Linked DNA regions of Homo sapiens: region 2 is linked to region 1. Evidence: fine-mapped expression QTL. A gene starts in region 1. The other region holds a variant in brackets. All regions are shown on one strand. Distances are from middle to middle. Region 1 holds the start of L1CAM (L1 cell adhesion molecule). Region 2 overlaps PDZD4 (PDZ domain containing 4).

What was found. PIP is the estimated chance that this variant, and not a neighbour inherited with it, causes the effect.
Region 2: its variant is fine-mapped to the expression of L1CAM in T cells (TOPMed, PIP 0.98).

Annotation. Positions count from the first base shown.
Region 1 is chrX:153,882,760-153,891,084 of GRCh38, reverse strand. It overlaps L1CAM (L1 cell adhesion molecule), which reads left to right and starts at 4,912. Exons shown (of 29, transcript NM_001278116.2): 1 at 4,912-5,020. L1CAM-AS1 (L1CAM antisense RNA 1) reads right to left here. Exons shown (of 7, transcript NR_130768.1): 2 at 7,189-7,374; 3 at 6,812-7,137; 4 at 5,649-5,722; 5 at 5,108-5,277; 6 at 4,028-4,122; 7 at 2,095-2,588.
Region 2 is chrX:153,818,207-153,826,531 of GRCh38, reverse strand. The region is part of intron 1 of PDZD4 (PDZ domain containing 4); the gene reads left to right. Among named protein-coding and RNA genes, the nearest start is that of PDZD4, 8.2 kb to the left of the region's middle. RefSeq lists a silencer at 7,328-7,487. The variant G/A (reference allele first, on the strand shown) is at 3,768.

The sequences.
Region 1 (8,325 bases):
TCTGCCTGGGCATATTGACAGCTCTCGGCACTCACTCCCACCTTGTGGGCTCTGCATGGCAGAGGCTGGAAATGTTCCAGACTCCAGAGCAGCTGGACTTTGGGAAGCAAATTTAGTTTTGCCAATTGGCAAATTGGCAAATTTGCCAATTGCCAAATTGGGTGTGCTCACATGAAGTTTGGATGACTGAAGGAAGGGAAGCCACACTTCTGCTGTGTGGGGCTGCGTTTCTGCTGGACATCAAAGAATTTCTGGGGTCTAACCTTCACTTCTTGGTTGTTGAGGGGCACTTGTGGCAGCAATGGCTTCCTGGTCCCAGCTTGCTGATCCTCAGGTCATGACTTTGGTGGTGTCTTTTTGAACTCAAAGGTTACACTGGCCGCCTCCCAATCCCCCATCTTGTGGATGGTGGCAGAGGTAGCAGCTCCCTTGAGGAGCCAGGTCTGCACTGGTGTTATCAACACCTAGCCCAGAGTCCACTCCTTTGGCCCATCCAATGGTCAGGTAAGCATCTAATCCCTTCTACAGAATCCCTTTCTGTTCATGATCACGGGAGGAATTTCTGCTTCCTACCCTGAACCTTTGAGAGGTGAAGCCAGCTAGACTTCCTGGGTGATGTGGGGACTTGGAGAACTTTTCTGTCTAGCTAGAGGATTGTAAACACACCAATCAGCGCTCTGTGTCTAGCTAAAGGATTGTAAATGCACCAATCAGCAGTCTGTAAAAACGCACCAGTTTTCTGTGTCTAGCTAGAGGATTGTAAATGGACCAATCAGCACTCTGTAAAATGGACCAATCAGCACTCTGTAAAATGGACTAATCAGCAGGACATGGGAGGGGACAAATAAGGGAATAAAAGCTGGCCCCCCCCCGCCCCCCACAAGCAACGGCAACCTGCTTGGGTCCTCTTCCATGCTGTGGAAGCTTTGTTCTTTCACTCTTCACAATACATCTTGCTGCTGCTCACACTTTGGGTCTGTGCCACCTTTAAGAGCTGTAACACTCACCGCGAAGGTCCGCGGCTTCATTCTTGAAGTCAGCGAGACCAAGAACCCACTGGAAGGAACCAACTCCAGACACACCTTCACTGATACAATGTGGGGGTGAGGCCAGGTGCAGTGACTCACTCCTGTAATCCTAGCACTTTGTGAGGCCAAGGCAGTGGATCACCACTTGAGCCCAGGAGTTCAAGACCAGTCTGGACAACATAGTGAGACCTCACCTCTACCAAAAAAGAAAAAAAAATTAATCAAGTGTGGTGGTGGCACATCTGTTGTCCCAGTACTTGGGAGGCTGTGGTGGGAGGATCACTTGAGCCCAGGAGGTCGAGGTTGCAGTGAGCCATGATCACACCACTGCACTCCAGCCTAGGGAACAGAGTGAGACCCTGTCTCAAAGTAATAACAACACTAATAAAAAATAATAAAGTGGAGGTGGGGGAGAGAGATGGGGAAAGCAGGACAAATAGAAAGCAAATACTCACCTGGCGTGACTACATCCAGAGATAGCAGCAGTCATCACCGTGTGACCAGCTGACCTGCACAGTTCAAAGACAAAGGCAGGTTCAACATCAATCTACCACTTGACTGAACAATCCACTCCTAAGCGGTTACCTTAGAGAAATGAAGACACACATTTACACAAGCTTGCATATAAATGTTTAGAGCTGCTCCATCATAATCACACAAAGCTGGAAACTACCCAAGTGTCCTTCAGTGAGTGAATGGCTGAACAAACCCTGATCCAACCAAACAATGGAATACTACTCGGCAATCAAAAGGAAATATACTGCTCTCTCTCGCCCGCATGCTCTCTCTCTCTCTCTCTCACACACACACACAAACACACACACCAACATGGATGAAGCTCAAAAAGTATGCTGCGTGAGTGTGAAAGAAGCCAGACAAAAGAATATATACGGTATGATTCCATTTATAATAAAATTTAGAAAAGACAGAAATCAGATCAGTGGTGGCCAAGGGCAGGGGGTGGTGGGAGTGGTTGGCTGCACACAACATTCACCAAAACTCCTTGAACTGTAAACCTCAAAAGGATGAATTTTACTGTATGTAAATTATACTCCAATAAAGTTGATTTTTTTTTTTTTTTTTTTGAGACAGGGTCTCACTCTGTCACCCAGGCTGGAGTGTAGTGGTGTGATCATGGCTCACTGTAGCCTCAACCTCTTGGGCTCCAGCGATCCTCCCACCTCAGCCTCCTGAGTAGTTGGGACTACAGACATGCACCACCATGCCTAATTTTAAAATTTTTTTTGTAGAGACGTGGTCTCGCTGTGTTGCCCAGGCAGGTCTCAAAGCTGATTTTTAAAAAGACAAGAATTGTTAGACAGAATCAAACCAAACCAAAACCCAACTATGTGCTGTTTCCAAGCGCTACACCTGAGATATGAAGACACAGAAAGATTGAAAGGAGAACAGAGAAAGACACGTCTGGCTGAGCCCACCCCGCCTGCCTGCTGGCACTTCCTTACTGCCCCACTGTCGTCTGTGGCTTCTGCGTCTTCTGCATGCTCATCACAGGGTCAGAGTCTGGGGCTTCCCTTGTCCAGTCCACTGTGTCTATGAGGGCTGGGTCACAGGGAGCAGGGCTGTGAGAAGCACTTGACGTTGAAGGGAAAGAGACAGTCATCTGTCTACTTGGTGTCCCCCTAACCTCCAACAGCAAGCACATGGCAGTGGGGGGGTGGCTTGCCTCTTGTTCAGGGCCAGTCCCTCCTGCTTCTCCTGGGACTTGCTCTGCCCTTGGTCTTCTGTCACTCTTGCTCTTGCTCCCATTGGCTCCTCCACTTCATTACATGGAAGTGAGAATGGGCATCGTGGTCAAGCAGAAGGGAATTCAAGTCCGAGTTCTGCCATTTACCTTCTGGGCTATCTTGGGTGGGTCATTTGACCCCTCTGAACCTTGGTTTCCTCATCTGTGAAATGGGGGCACTGATAGTGCCAATTTCTTCCTGGTTGCATGACTGCCCCTCTCTGGACCTTGGGTACCTCACTGGGAGAGTGAGGATAATAACAGCACCATCATCTGGGGTGTGTGTGTGGATGCAATGAGCCAGTGGAGAGAAAGAGACCTTCCTAACTGTGCTTGCTGGACCCAGCCTTGAGCTCTGTGGGCTTTGGTTTTCTCATCTGTAACGTGGGGCGAATGCTTCAACAGACCTCCCCAGGTTGGTGTGCAATTTAAATGTGCAGGAAATGTAACGATGGCAGGTCCATGGCTGTGCTCAGGAAATGTGATGTCGTGTAATCCTAGTAATGAATTTTTTGTTACCATAAATGGACCCATCACTACACATTAGCAGGTGCGTATAAACGGGCTCTATTCCCTGCTTACTTCACCATCCTGATGGGCATCAAACCCTAGATTAGGTAAAGGATTTGCAGAAGTTGGGGCTTGGAGGAAAGGCTGGGAACGTAGGGAGTGAGTGGAGGCAGCAACTGGAAAGGAGAGAGGCCTATCAGAGTTCAGATCAGCAAAGGCAGGAAGCTGACCACAGCTCAGTGCCTCATGGAAAGTACGCCCTCTTGGCCCAGCTCATGAGCCTGCTGGCCTCGTGACCCAGGCGGGCTCAGTTTCCTCTGCTGTCACCTGAAGATGCCCTGCAAGTGCCCCCACTCTGGAAGCAGTCTCCCTAGCCGTCCGTCTTCACTCAGGTGCCTAGTCTTGTCCATTCTCCTCCTAAAGGCTGGGCAAACATGGCATCCAGACCCTCTCTGAGCACAGATGGGTCCACCCCAAGCTTCCCATTCCAGGGGAACTGAAGCTGGCACTATGGGGGTGGGGCATCCAAGCCAGGATGCCAGGGCTGCTCCCATGTGGGCCCTCCAGGGCCCCACACCACTTGGGGAGTCTTGTGAGACTGAGTCGAGGGCCCCTGGAATGCTTCACTGGGCAACAGGCATGCCCATAAAAATACCGTGGCCGCCAGATCTGCAATCTGCCATCGGGGCCCTAGGCCTTCCTAGCCCTGAGGCTGCAGCCAGCTCGCCGGCTCCGGAATTCTTACCCCCTCCATTTTGCTTCCTCGCCTGTGAGGTCATGGCCTTGAGCCTAGGAGGGGGCACTGGGGAGGAGCTCCTTCCTTCTCGATCCTGTGCAGGGCTGCGGGGGAGAGTGGGAGAGAGTGGAGTCGGCGGGAAAGGTCGAATGGGGCCAATCCCGAGGACAAAGAAATAAGACACCAGAGAGCTGGAGGAAAATCTGGGAGTTGGGGGTGGCAGTTCGAGGGATACCCTCTCCCAGACCCTGTCTCCCCTGGGCTCGCCTCCTACCCTGCCGCCCACCTGGGCTCTGGGGTGCGCAGGAGCCGGTGCTCCGCGGCGCCTCCCCAACACGCTGAGGACGAAGCCCCCGCACCCCTCCCAACAGGACCCTGACTGGGCCCTCAGGATCGGGGGGCATTCGGGAGAGGTCCCGGGAGTCCTGCCCTGTGTGTGTGTGTTGGGGGGGCGTTGCGTGCAGGTGCCCATCGCTGGCCGGCGCCGTCGAGGGCCAGGCCGAGGCTAAGGGAGCATCCCCTTCCTTGCCGGACTCCTCTCTCCACCGCCCGGCCCCAGGCCTCTGGGAGCACTCTCGCCCCGCGATTCCCGCTCCGAGCTTTCACAGCGGGCTCCCTTGCGCTGGGGCTGAGGACACTCTCCGGCCGGAGACTCCCGGTCTGCGGGGAAGGGGGTCTGGCGGGACCCGTCGGCTGGGGTCCCGCTGAGCTCCCGGAGTGGGCTGCCCGGGGGCCCCCAGCCCAAGCCGCGCTCGGCTGGCACCAGGGGCTAGGGTGCGGCGGGGCGGGGCGGGGCGGGGCGGGCGGCCGGGGAGGTGATCTCACTCCTCCCTCCCTCTCCTCCCCGGCGCTCCCCTCCCCCGCCCCTGCGCGCACGCCCGCCCCGCCCCGCCACAGCCGCTGCTGCCGCAGCATCGGCATCGCAGACGCGCTCGGGCGGCGGGTCCGAGGCCGGCGTGCGCGGAGGCTGGGCGGGCAGCCCGAGCGGTGGCCGCAGCGCAGGTAAGGCGGGCTGGCCTCCCCGTGCGACCCGGGCCGCGGCCGCGATCCCCCGGCGACACCACACCGCTCTGCCCGGGGTGCACGGACCAGGGAGTCCCGGCCCGGTCCGGCCCGCGGTAACCGGCGTTGCTGCCGGAGCCCCACCCATGCCGGGCGTCGGGCTCCGGGCACCGCGGGCTGTAAGCGGGGCGGGGGAGGGATGCCGGGTGCCCGAGCCCGACAGGTGAGGGGTAACCTGCGGGGCCCCAGATGCTGGCCTGGGCGGGAGAACAGGGCGGGGGGCGTCAGGCAGGGTCTGTGTGGGCAGGCGGGGGCTGAAGTTGGCGGGTCCCCGTGCGTGTGTGCGTGTCTGAGAAAGGAAGCCAGATCGGGTCGAGCGCTCCCCCACAGGCCGCCGTGGGGTGTGGCCCTGGGCGTGGCTGCCCCTCATCCCCAGCCGAGAGCTCAGTTTGGTTGAAAATCCCGGCTGACAGCGTGGTGAGGGGTAGATCGGGATAAGCCGCCCCTGCAATGGGGGGAGGGGAGTGAACGGGACTGGGCGCTGCCTGCCCCTCCGCCCCAAGGTTGGGGGGGCTTTGTTCTCCTCCTTCTTCTTTCCAAATCCCAGCCTGGGCTCCTCCGGGCTCACCCGAAAACCTGCCGCAGAGCCAGGGGCTCCTCCCCGGAGGCGTAGGGCGCCTCTGGAGCCCGTTTCCACAGGCTCTGTGGCCAGTCAGGGCTGGAGTGGGTGAGGTCGGTTCGGGCACCCACTGCTGTGCCTCCCGTGCATGGGTGTCCATCAGGTAGGGTCCATCAGGTAGGGGTGAGGGAAGGTGGGCCTCACTGGCTCAGGCGGTCCCTGCGCACTGCAGGTCTTTTGCCCACTGCCACATCTTCCTATCTCTGTGCGGTTATGGGAGGGGTCAGCGATTCCTATTCCCTCCATTCCAGGTCAGACTTTTGGGGCCTCTTGGTTGGCAGGGATTGCAAAGAACACGCACTACAATCCATTGCCCCCGACAGGGTATCTGGACCCCCCACCTATCACTGTCCCTCTCAGGAAGGCAGGCCTAGAGCCATCTGCCCCCTTCTCCAGAAGGAGTGGGGGCCTGGCACCCCCCAGGTAGATACCCTGCCCCTGTTAACCCCACCCTGAGGGCAGGGGCATCGGGGCAGCCCAGTGCCATCTCTGCTGACTCATGTGGCCCTGACGTAAATCAGTGCAGTCCGCCCTTCTTCCCCTGGGGGCTGCTGCCCAGCATCATCTTTCTGGGGCGGGGGCCTCCCCAGGGCCTCTCCCCTCCCGTCAGCTCCTTGCTGCAGGTGGTGGGACTTGGCCCAGCCTGGCCTCTCCCCTGGCACAGCTCCCATGCAGTGCCCACATGTGCACACCTGAGGGCTCCAGAGCCTTTGAGGACTCGGCTGTCTTGGCCACATGGGAAGTTTGGGGCAGGGTTGGGCCTGGGACCTTCCCACCTCCTTGGCTCCTGGTCATTTCTCTCTGCTGCATCTGAGTCTCTCTCCATATTTATTGATGTTTGTGTGTGTATGATCCCGAAAGTAATACATCTTATTGTAGGACACTTGAAATATACAGAAAAGAACAAAAGAAATTAAGAATCGCTAGTGATCTGATCACCAAGAGGGAAACACGTTCAGCACGCCCCAGCCTCCCTGGTTTGCTACACCGCGCTCCTAAAAGGCTCCTCCCCAAGTTCCCAGCTGCCAGCTCCCTGCTGAGCATCAGGAGGACAATCAGCGCTTCAAGGTGGCGGGGTCCCCTGCCCTGCAGCCAGTGAAGAGCTTCCCTACCCAGGCGCTCAGGATCCCAGCGATGGGCAGTCGTGTACTGGGCAGCTGCTCATGGCCAGTGCTCCTTTGGGCCGGGCTCTGGGCTGCCCATGGAAGAGCCAGTGACAAACTGGACCAGCATTGTCCCTGTCTTCGTGGGGTGTCACTTGTTTTCTTTTTTCTTGATGATTATCTGAAGGGAAAAGGGAGGCAAAGAGTGAGGAAGGGCCTGGCCTGAGGGCTCCTACAGTGAGCAGGGTGCCCAGATTGTGCCCCCAATCGGCCTCTCCCAGGTCCGAGCCCTTTCCACCACTGGAACTACAGCTGGCGCCTTCCTTGGCATGCACCTGGCCAGGACTGGCAGGTGAGGGTCGAGGAGACAGGCCTGTGTGCCCTACCTTGATCACCAAGTTCCCTTTCAAAGCTCGAAATGGCTGCACTGAGTGCTTTTCTGGGTGTGAGGGTGATGCGGCCTCGCAGAGTGGCCCAGGCTCCAGGAGGGCACGTTCATGGGAGAACCTGGGGTAGTGGTGGGGTCCTGTGAGGAGGTCTGCCAGGATGGGGATCCCAGCCAAGACCCTGGTCTGCCAGGCATGAGTGGGGGCATGAGTGGGGGCCCTGCCTCCCTCCCTCGTGGTTCAGACAGTGGGGGAGGCGGGGGGTCTGGATGCCCTTCTAGGGTCCCCAGCAGGGTGCTCATTGCCCTGTCCTCTGCCCCTGCAATGGGCTGGGGCTGGGTCCCTGGGTGGGGCCATCTGGAATGGGCCTGCAGCATCCCTGCCCCTGCAGTCGCTGTCTTACTTGCTCTGATCTGGCCCATCTCGGACACCTCCTTCTCCTGCTTCCCCCGCCCCCCTGCTCTCTCCTCTGCAGCCTCCCACGTCTCCCTGTGCCCCACCCCCAGGGCCATCACCTTCCTCCTCCTTCTAGGCAGAAGCCTGCTGCTGCCGGGGATGGGGTGCACCACTCCCCGTCTCCTCCCTCTGCCTCTGCCTGCCTGGCCCTCCCTTCCCTCTTCCCCCTTCCCGTCAGGGCTCTGCTCCATCTCTCTGCTTACCCTTTTGTCTGTCTTCCACCGCTCTGCTCCTCTCCTTGTCCCCCCCAGCTGCCCCTGCCTCACCCTTGAGGGCCCTGAGGTTGTGCCCTGTCCAGCAGCCACTCAGCACCCTTCTGCTGGACTCTACGCCTTGGGGTTGGGCCCAGACCCCCCATGGGGGCCTTGTCTGAGTGGAAGGCTGTATGGGGGGTGCCTGGTGAGCAGCAGCCAGACGAGCACTGGGGGAGGTAGCCCGCCCAGCTTGCCTCTTCCCCAGATATCAACAGGGTCTTTGTGGCTTCCTGAAGGCTGTGGCTGGAAAAAGAGGGAGGAGCTGGGGAGGGTCTGGCCGCTGTTCTTTCTAGAAGCTTTTCTTTGTCCAGTGGCCCCCAGCCCAGGTCCCCGTGTTCTTCCCAGGTTGGAAAGCTGCAGAGGGAGTGCCCAGCCACTGTCAGTCAGCAGCTCCTGCTCATCTCTGGCCCTTACACCCAGCAGGGGC
Region 2 (8,325 bases), 65 kb after region 1:
GAGACTGAGGCAAGAGAATCGCATGAACCCCAGAGGCAGAGGTTGCAGTGAGCTGAGATTGCACCGCTGCACTCCAGCCTGGGTGACAGGGCAGGACTCTGTCTCAAAAAAAAAATTGATTTTTATACATTGATCCTATATCTTGCGACCTTACTAAAATTGTTTATTAAGTATAATTTGTTTAGTAGATTCCTCAGGATTATCTACATATTAGGATCATGTCATTGGCAAATAGAAATCGTTTTTCTTCTTCCTTTCCAATCTGGATGGCTTTGATTTCTTTTCTTTTCTTTCTTTCTTTTTTTTTTTTTTTTTGAGACACAGTCTCACTTTGTCACCCAGACTGGAGTGCAGTGGTGCAATCTCGGCTCACTGCAGCCTCCGCCTCCCGGGTTCAAGTGATTCTCCTGCCTCAGCTTCCCATGTAGCTAGGATTACAGGCACACACTACCACACCCAGCTAATTTTTGTATTTTTAGCAGAGACGAGCTTTTGCCATGTTGGCCAGGCTAGTCTTGAACTCCTGGCCTCAAGCAATCCTGCCCGCCTCGGCCTCCCAAAGTGCTGGGATTACCGGTGTAAACCACCGTTCCTGGCCCTTCGATTTCTTTTTCTTGTTAATTTGCTCTGGCTGGAGTCTCTAGTACAATGTTGAATAGAAGTGCCTGTGAATGTCTTTCCCTTGTTCCTCATCTTAAAGGTAAAGAAGCTTCCAGTCTTTCACTAGGGGGTATAAAGTTAGCTGTGGCTTTTTCATAGCTGTCCTTTATCAGGGTAAGGAAGTTCCCATTCTATTCCTAGTGTGTTTTTATCATGAGAGGCATTGGATTGTGCAGTGCTGCTTCTGTGGCTAGTGAGATGACCACATGGTTCCTTTATTCCACGGATGTGGGTTGTCACAGGCACTTTCGTGTGTCATGTCGGAACCTCAGCCCCATTCCTATATTCCAATCATGTCCTCCTAGTTTGGAAAATCTGGGACCTCCCCTGAAAATGGAGGATTACTGCGTGTTGAGTTAGGAAAAGGAAGCAGGCTGGTTGCCCAGAATGGAAGGCAGGAAACAGCATGTCCCCAGCTCCGGAGCCTTTTCTGCAGCCCATGTCCCTCCACTGCCACCAGGCCCCCTTGTCATATATCTCATCGTGGTCCACACTCTGCTGAACTTGTCTTGGCCTTGGCACCCCCTCTCTGACACCATGATGTGCTTGCTAGCATCCGAGCACGCCGGAGATGGTCAGGGGATAAACCCCTGGTACTTAGGACTGGTCTCCCGCCCATCCTACTCAGGCTTTACAGGGGGAGTGGGTCAGGACCGCCTGTCATCTCCCCTCTGTCCACATCGAGGGAGGCCAAAGGACAGCTGGCCAGCCCTTCTGGTGATCTCCCAGGCATTCTTGCCTAAAGCACCTGCATGTGAGCCCCCATGGTGCTGGCAGCCATCCTGGGTGCGTGGCATTCAGCAGGGAGACACTGCAGACAGGGCCTTGCCCCTCCCCCAGACTCCCCTTTTGTTGTTGTTGTTGTTGTTGTTTGAGACAGAGTTTCGCTCTTGTTGCCCAGGCTGGAGTGCAATGGTACGATCTGGGCTCACCAAAACCTCCGCCTCCAGGGTTCAAGCGATTCTCCTGCCTCAGCCTCCCGAGTAGCTGGGATTACAGGCATGCGCCACCATGCCTGGCTAATTTTGTATTTTTAGTAGAGATGGGGTTTCTCCATGTTGGTCAGGCTGGTCTTGAACTCCCGACCTCAGGTGATCCACCCACACCGGCCTCCCAAAGTGCTGGGATTACAGGAGTGAGCCACCACGCCTGGCCCCAGGCTCCCCTTTTTGTAAGGGGGAGACCATCGCCAACATGTAGGCAACTGCGGGGGAGAGAAAGTACTGCTTGAGTGCGGGAGCGTGGCTGGCAGCCAGTGTCCCCTCTTCAGCGACGTCTTCCTCCAAACTGCTCTCCCACCCACCAAGCCAGGTGGCTTCTCTGGCTCCCTCCTGCTTGCATGGGGGCTTCCTGTGAGCAGGGATTTGGGTCTGGCATGGGCACTCTGCCTCCCCGCCTCACCAGCACCAGATGCTGCCAGCACATCCACGCTGGCCTCCACCCTTCCAGGGGAAAGCTGGACTCTCAGTCAACTCAGTGGTTCTGCCGCAGAAGCTGACTGGGGAAGAAGCAGGCTCTGAGAAAGTCCTTGTGGAGTGGAAGAACAGAGGGCTGGACACTGAATTCTGACTGCCATCTTCTGGACCAGGTCATCCTGTTTTGTGTCATTGTCCCAAGATTGTAGAATGCCCTTTCCCCTCTCATCTCGGGGTTCCTGAGGACTGTCCAGTCTGCTGAAATGAAATTCGATAGTGCCAGAGAGCAGATTCGTGGTTGCAGGGATGGGCAGAGGGGCATGAGGACACTTTTGGGGAAGATAGAAATGGCCACTGTCCTGACGGTGGTGATGGTTCCCCAGGTTCATGTATGACATATGAACACCTGCCCTTTGCACACTGAAGATGTGCAGGTTACCACCCAGCAACAGACCTCACCAAAGCTTTAGAACAGGAACTCCATGGCCACATGCACGCATCCTGGGGAGAAAGGTGTCCTTTCCTTCCTTCTACTTCAGGGGCCCTGCCAGAGAAGGCAGTGCAGTGTGGAGATAGGAATGGAGGCAGCCACCAACTGACAGCTGTGTGGCCAGGGGCAAGTCGCTGCATGGCCCACTGGCTCAGTGACTCAGTTTCCTCAACTGTGAAATGGCAGTGAAGAGTGCTTGCGTCCGAGGGCCATTGTGACAAGGAAAACAGATGGTGTGTCCCCCGGGATCTCACTGGGTGGAGGAGGGAGTTGCTGCCCTCGGGCCATTCAGTTGGTCATTAAGAAGTGGAAATTGGCTGGGTGCGGTGGCTCACGCCTGTAATCCCAGCACTTTGGGAGGCCGAGGCGGGTGGATCATGAGGTCAGGAGTTCGAGACCAGCCTGGCCAGCATGGTGAAACCCCATCTATACTAAAAATACAAAAAATTGACCAGGCGTGGTGGCTCACGCCTGTAATCCCAGCACTTTGGGAGGCTGAGGTGGGCGGATCACCTCAGGTCAGGAGTTCGAGACCAGCCTGACCAACATAGAGAAACCCCATCTCTACTAAAAATACAAAATTAGCCGGGCATGGTGACACATGCCTGTAATCCCAGGTACGCGGGAGGCTGAGGCAGGAGAATTGCTTGAACCCGGGAGGTGGAGGTTGTGGTGAGCTGAGATCACGCCATTGCACTCCAGCTTGGGCTCGAAACTCCATCTCAAAAAAAAATATATATATATATATTAGCTGGGCATCATGCACCTGTAGTCCCAGCTACTCGGGAGGCTGAGGCAGGAGAACTGCTTGAACTCAGCAGGTGGAGGTTGCATGAGCCAAGATCAAGCCACTGCACTCCAGCCTAGGTGACAGAACGAGACCCTGTCTCAAATAAATAAATTAATTAAATAAAAAATAATGAAAAAGGAAATTATATGGAGAAGGCCTTACATCTGGGTATGTCACAGTTAATGCCCAGTGACAGAAGAATGTCCAATATTATTCTGAGAATTTCTCTCAGGAAAGGGACCTCCAAGTTTTGAAGAAGTGTGATGTAGTACAATATTAGTTAGGACAGCCTGGGCAACATATTGAGACCTTGTCTCTACAAAAATAAAAAATTGCTCAGGCGTAGTGGCATGCGCCTCTAGTCCCAGCTTCTGGGGAGGCTGAGTGGGAGGATTGCTTGAACCCAGGAGTT[G/A]GAGGCTTCTGTGAGCCGTGATTGTACCACTGCACTCTAGCCTGGGCAATGGAGCCAGACTGTGTCTGGAAAAAAAAGAAAGAAAGACAGAGAGAAAGAGAGAGAGAGAGAGGGAGGGAGGGAGAGAGAGAGAGAGAGAGAAAGAAAAAACAGATGGACAGGGAACAAAGCGGAGGCATATGTGGTCATTTTGCACAGGAGTTGGGCCGGAGGAGGCGAGGCTGAGCAGCCTGGGGCTGGACAAGATGTCCTCCCTTTCAGTGCATTCTGCCTGTCCTCATGGCTGCTTGGAGCATTGAGAATGAAAAACGCTGCAGAGGGAATATTGCTTTGATTGTAAAACGCTGCAGAGGGAATATTGCTTTGATTGTTGCTAGATGTGAACTGTGCCCTTAGCCAGTCAGGTTAGCCTGAGGTGGGTGGGAGGATGGGTTTAGTTGCTGGGCCACGTGCCTGGAAAGCTGTGAATATGTACCCGAAGGTTGATCTTGAGAATGGCTTCAGGAAGTGGTTGGCTTTTCCTGTGCAAGGTGTGGGACACCCCTCTTTTCCTGTGTGTTTTTTTTTTTTTTTTTTTTGAGACAGAGTCTTGCTCTGTCACCCAGGCTAGAGTGCAGTGTTGTGATCTCGGCTCATTGCAGCCTCCGCCTCCTGGGTTCAAGCAATTCTGCCTCAGCCTCCCGAGTAGCTGGGATTACAGGCACCTGCCACCACGCCTGGCTAATTTTTGTATTTTTAGTAAAGACAGGGTTTCATCATGTTGGCCAGTCTGGTCTCAAACTCCTGACCTCTAGTGATCCGCCTGCCTCGGCCTCCCAAAATGCTGGGATTACAGGCGTGAGCCACCGCGCCCGGCCTCCTTTCTGCTTCTGAGCCAGGACTATGGAGGTGTCTGAGAGGCCGCCGCTCTCCCGGAAAGGTGGGGGCCAGGTGGATTGATGAGACTTCAGCAGACCCTGGGCTTCGGGGAGGGAAGGAGAAGTGAGGGGAAAGAAAGATGCCCTCATGCAGAAGGCCTTCGTTGAGGTCTGCCCTGGTTCCTCCAGGGCGCGCTCTGAGTCAGTACAGCGCCACCCTCCACCCGAAGTCCTTGTTAAGGTGCACTTTCTGACTGAGCCACTAGCATGGGGCCTGGGATTCTGCACTTCTCACAAGCTCCCAGGTGATGTGGATCCCACTGGCTGTGAGTAGCCAGGGCCTTGGGTAGGGACCGGGAGTAGATCTATGGTAGCCCCAAACCACATTAACATGGGTGGTGAAGTGAGGTGTTGTTTTTTTTGTTTGTTTGTTTTGTTTTTTTTTTTTACAAATAGAGGGTAAAAATTGTTTACAAATAGAGGGTAAAAAAACACACATAGAGGGTAAATCAGAACATCCAGGAGTCGTTGCCTACGTGAGGGCTTTACAGGACATAACTTGTTCTTCCCTGCCATGTGCAGCTAACTGACCCCCTTCCCTGTCACCGGCACCCCTACCGGTATACATGTCTCTCATGGACGCCCAGACACCCCTCCCCCGACTAACTGCTCAAAGGCCTTTGAGATGAAGCCCTCCCATGTTTCTGTCTCTCCTGCCCCCAGGCAGAAAGGGTGGGCACAGAGTTATGGAAGCGGGTGGTGTGGCTTGCCCAGGAGGCCACAGTTGGGGGCGTGGGCAGCCATGCTACTTGCCGGGCCTGTCACCTCTTTGTCCCTGCTAGAATTCTAACATGTTGGTGGAGACATTTTGCAGCCACCAATGCAGTAATTAATTCAGGCAAAAATCATCACTGGATGCCAAAACCATTAGATGTAAGGTCGTTGGGGACAGAATATTCACAAAGTCTCCAAATATTACCCCAAATTACCTGTGAATCAGGAAGGGAAACTGCGTCTTTACAGAGGAGAGATCTGGCAGCTGCCACCTGGACCATGTGATCAAACAGCCTCCCCAACAGTGGGGCAGCCTGACCCTGCCAGCCGCCAGATGCAGGGCTGGGGAGGAGACATACAGCATCTCCTGCAAGGTGCTCTTGTCAAAACGCTCAGCCTGAATCTCACCGCGGGAATGAATCAGGCAAATTCAGACTCTGGCGCATTCTATAAGGACTGGTCTCTTCCAAGAAGTCATTCCCATTAAAGTAAAAAATATATATATTTTTTTCTAGATTAGAGAGGAGACATAATAACTAGAGACCTAACAACCGAATGTAATATGTGTGCTTCTTGATTGAATCCTAGATTTTTTGTTTGTTTGTTTTGTTTTTGAGATGGAGTCTCTCTGTGTCACCCAGGCTGGAGTGTGATGGTGTGATCTCAGCTCACTTCAACCTCTGCTTCCTGGGTTCAATCAATTCTCCTGCCTCAGCCTCCCAAGTAGCTGGGACCATAGGCTGCACCACCACGCCTCGCTTTTTTTTTTTTTTTTTTTTTTTTTGAGATGGAGTCTTGCTCTGTCGCCCAGGCTGGAGTGCAGTGGCACGATCTCGGCTCACTGCAACCTCCTCCGCCACCCGGGTTCAAGTGATTCTCCTGCCTCAGCCTCCCTAGTAGCTGGAACTACAGGTGCAAGCCACCACGCCCGGCTAATTTTTGTATTTTTAGTAGAGACGGGGTTTCACCATATTGGCCATGCTGGTCTCGAACTCCTGACCTTGTGATCTGCCCGCCTCAGCCTCCCAAAGTGCTGGGATTACAGGCATGAGCCATTGTGCCCAGCCTCAAATCCTAGATTTTTAAAAAAAGCTATAAGGGTGTTAGCGGGACAGCTGGGGAGATGTGAGGCTGGCCCATTGTATGAGTGCGGAATTCCGTGCTAAGGGTGTTGTGGTTCCACGGAGAATGGGACTGATGGCATCTTGCTTTCAAATGCTTCTGCACATGTGTGTGTAGAAACCCCGAGAGCAGGTGTGGGGAATCTGCAGATGTTCCCACATGCTTGTGGGCGGACAATTTTCAAAATCCCGAGCTGGGGAAACATGAATGGGGACTTTGCTGGGTCACTGAGTGGGTGAATGTAGTGAGCCTGCGGCTTCTCCTTTCTCCTCTGATGCTCTACTCGTTGGGAGATCCCCCGATGCCTGACTTGGCCTGGAAGCTACAGTCACAACTGCTTCCAAGGTGTCCTGGATACTCCAGACGGCAGAGCTGAGAGCCAGCAGGCAGGTCAGAGCTCGGCCCCGGGCAGAGGATAACTTCCTGTCTCTGTCCTTCCCCAGCTTGTTTCCTACTCTACAGCAGTGGGGTAAGGGGAGTCCGAAGGTGGCAGCCCCCCCACCTCCGTGGCAGCCACGGGGGCCCCTGGAAGTGATGTGGCTTCACCTCCCATCCCGCGCGTTGCCAGTGAGAGTGAAAGGGGTCGCAGGCGCCGTGTGACAAGCACTTGGGATTGCGAGTCTCCCAGGCCACAACTGTTTTCTTAGCCTCTCCGGCCTCTCTTCTCGGCTTCCCAGAGATTCCTGATCAGCAAGAGGGCGTCGCGCCCCACCCGGCTGTGCGCCTGCCACCGCTGGGTGCAGGAGGGTGCCTGGGGCAGAGCCTGGAAACAGAGCTCAGCCTCCGACGGGGTTGGCGGGGCGGGCGGGCAGGAGTCCTGCCAATACAGCCACCAGCGTGGCGGCGCCGGGACGAGTGTGGTCCGCCCTGCTCCCGCAGCCGCAGCCACCCCGCCGCCGTCGCGGCGCGCTCTTTGTCTGCGGCTCCGGGCTCAGGGGGCGGGGCGAGCGCGCCTGGGGCTCCGCCCTCTCCGCCTAGGGCGCCCCGCTTCCCGCGTCCCCTAAGGCCCGCCAGTCCCTTGCCCAGCGGGAGATCGCCGCCCCACAGCGACTGCCCGTGGGGCCGACTTCGCGTCATGCCTGCCTCGCCTGCCCGGTGTTGCCCCCTCCCCTGTCCCTGTGTCCCCCCTCCCTTGCCCGCATGTCCCCCTCATGCGGGGAAAGCGGTGCCAGCACTTTCCCTGGCCTTGCGAATTGCTCTTCCATCGGTATTCAGCCGCCCCTCTGATGTTCCTGAAAACCCAACCTGCTCCTTCTCTGCAAAAAGCTCCGGAAGGCTGTGTCGATGCAGGTCGAGCTTCCCCACCCGGCCCCCTCCCACCTTTTAGCAAATCCAGAGGCCCCACCTTCGCCCTCCCCTCCCGGGCTCCGACCCAGTGCATTGAGCAGCTCCTCGGCTTCCCTCCCGGGACTTTCTAGTCTCTCTCCCCAACCGGCTCAGTGTCAGGGTGCCCCAGGACTCTCCTTGGGCCTCTCCTGTTCTTGACTACATTCACTCCCTAGGTGAGCTCCTCCATCTCATGCTTTTGCTTTTTAAATTTTTATTTATTTATTTTTAAATTTTTATTATTTTTGAGACAGGGTCTCAGTCCGTTGCTCAGGCTGGAGTGGAGTGGCACAATCACGGCTCACTGCAGCCTTGACCTCCCAATGCTCAGGTGATCCTCTTGCCTCAGCCCTACCGCCTGCCCCCTACCTCCTCCACCACTTGGGGCTACAGGAGCGAGACACCACGCCCAGCTTCATCTCATGATTCTTTTTTTGTTTGAGACGGAGTCTTGCTCTGTTGCCCAGGCTGGAGTACAG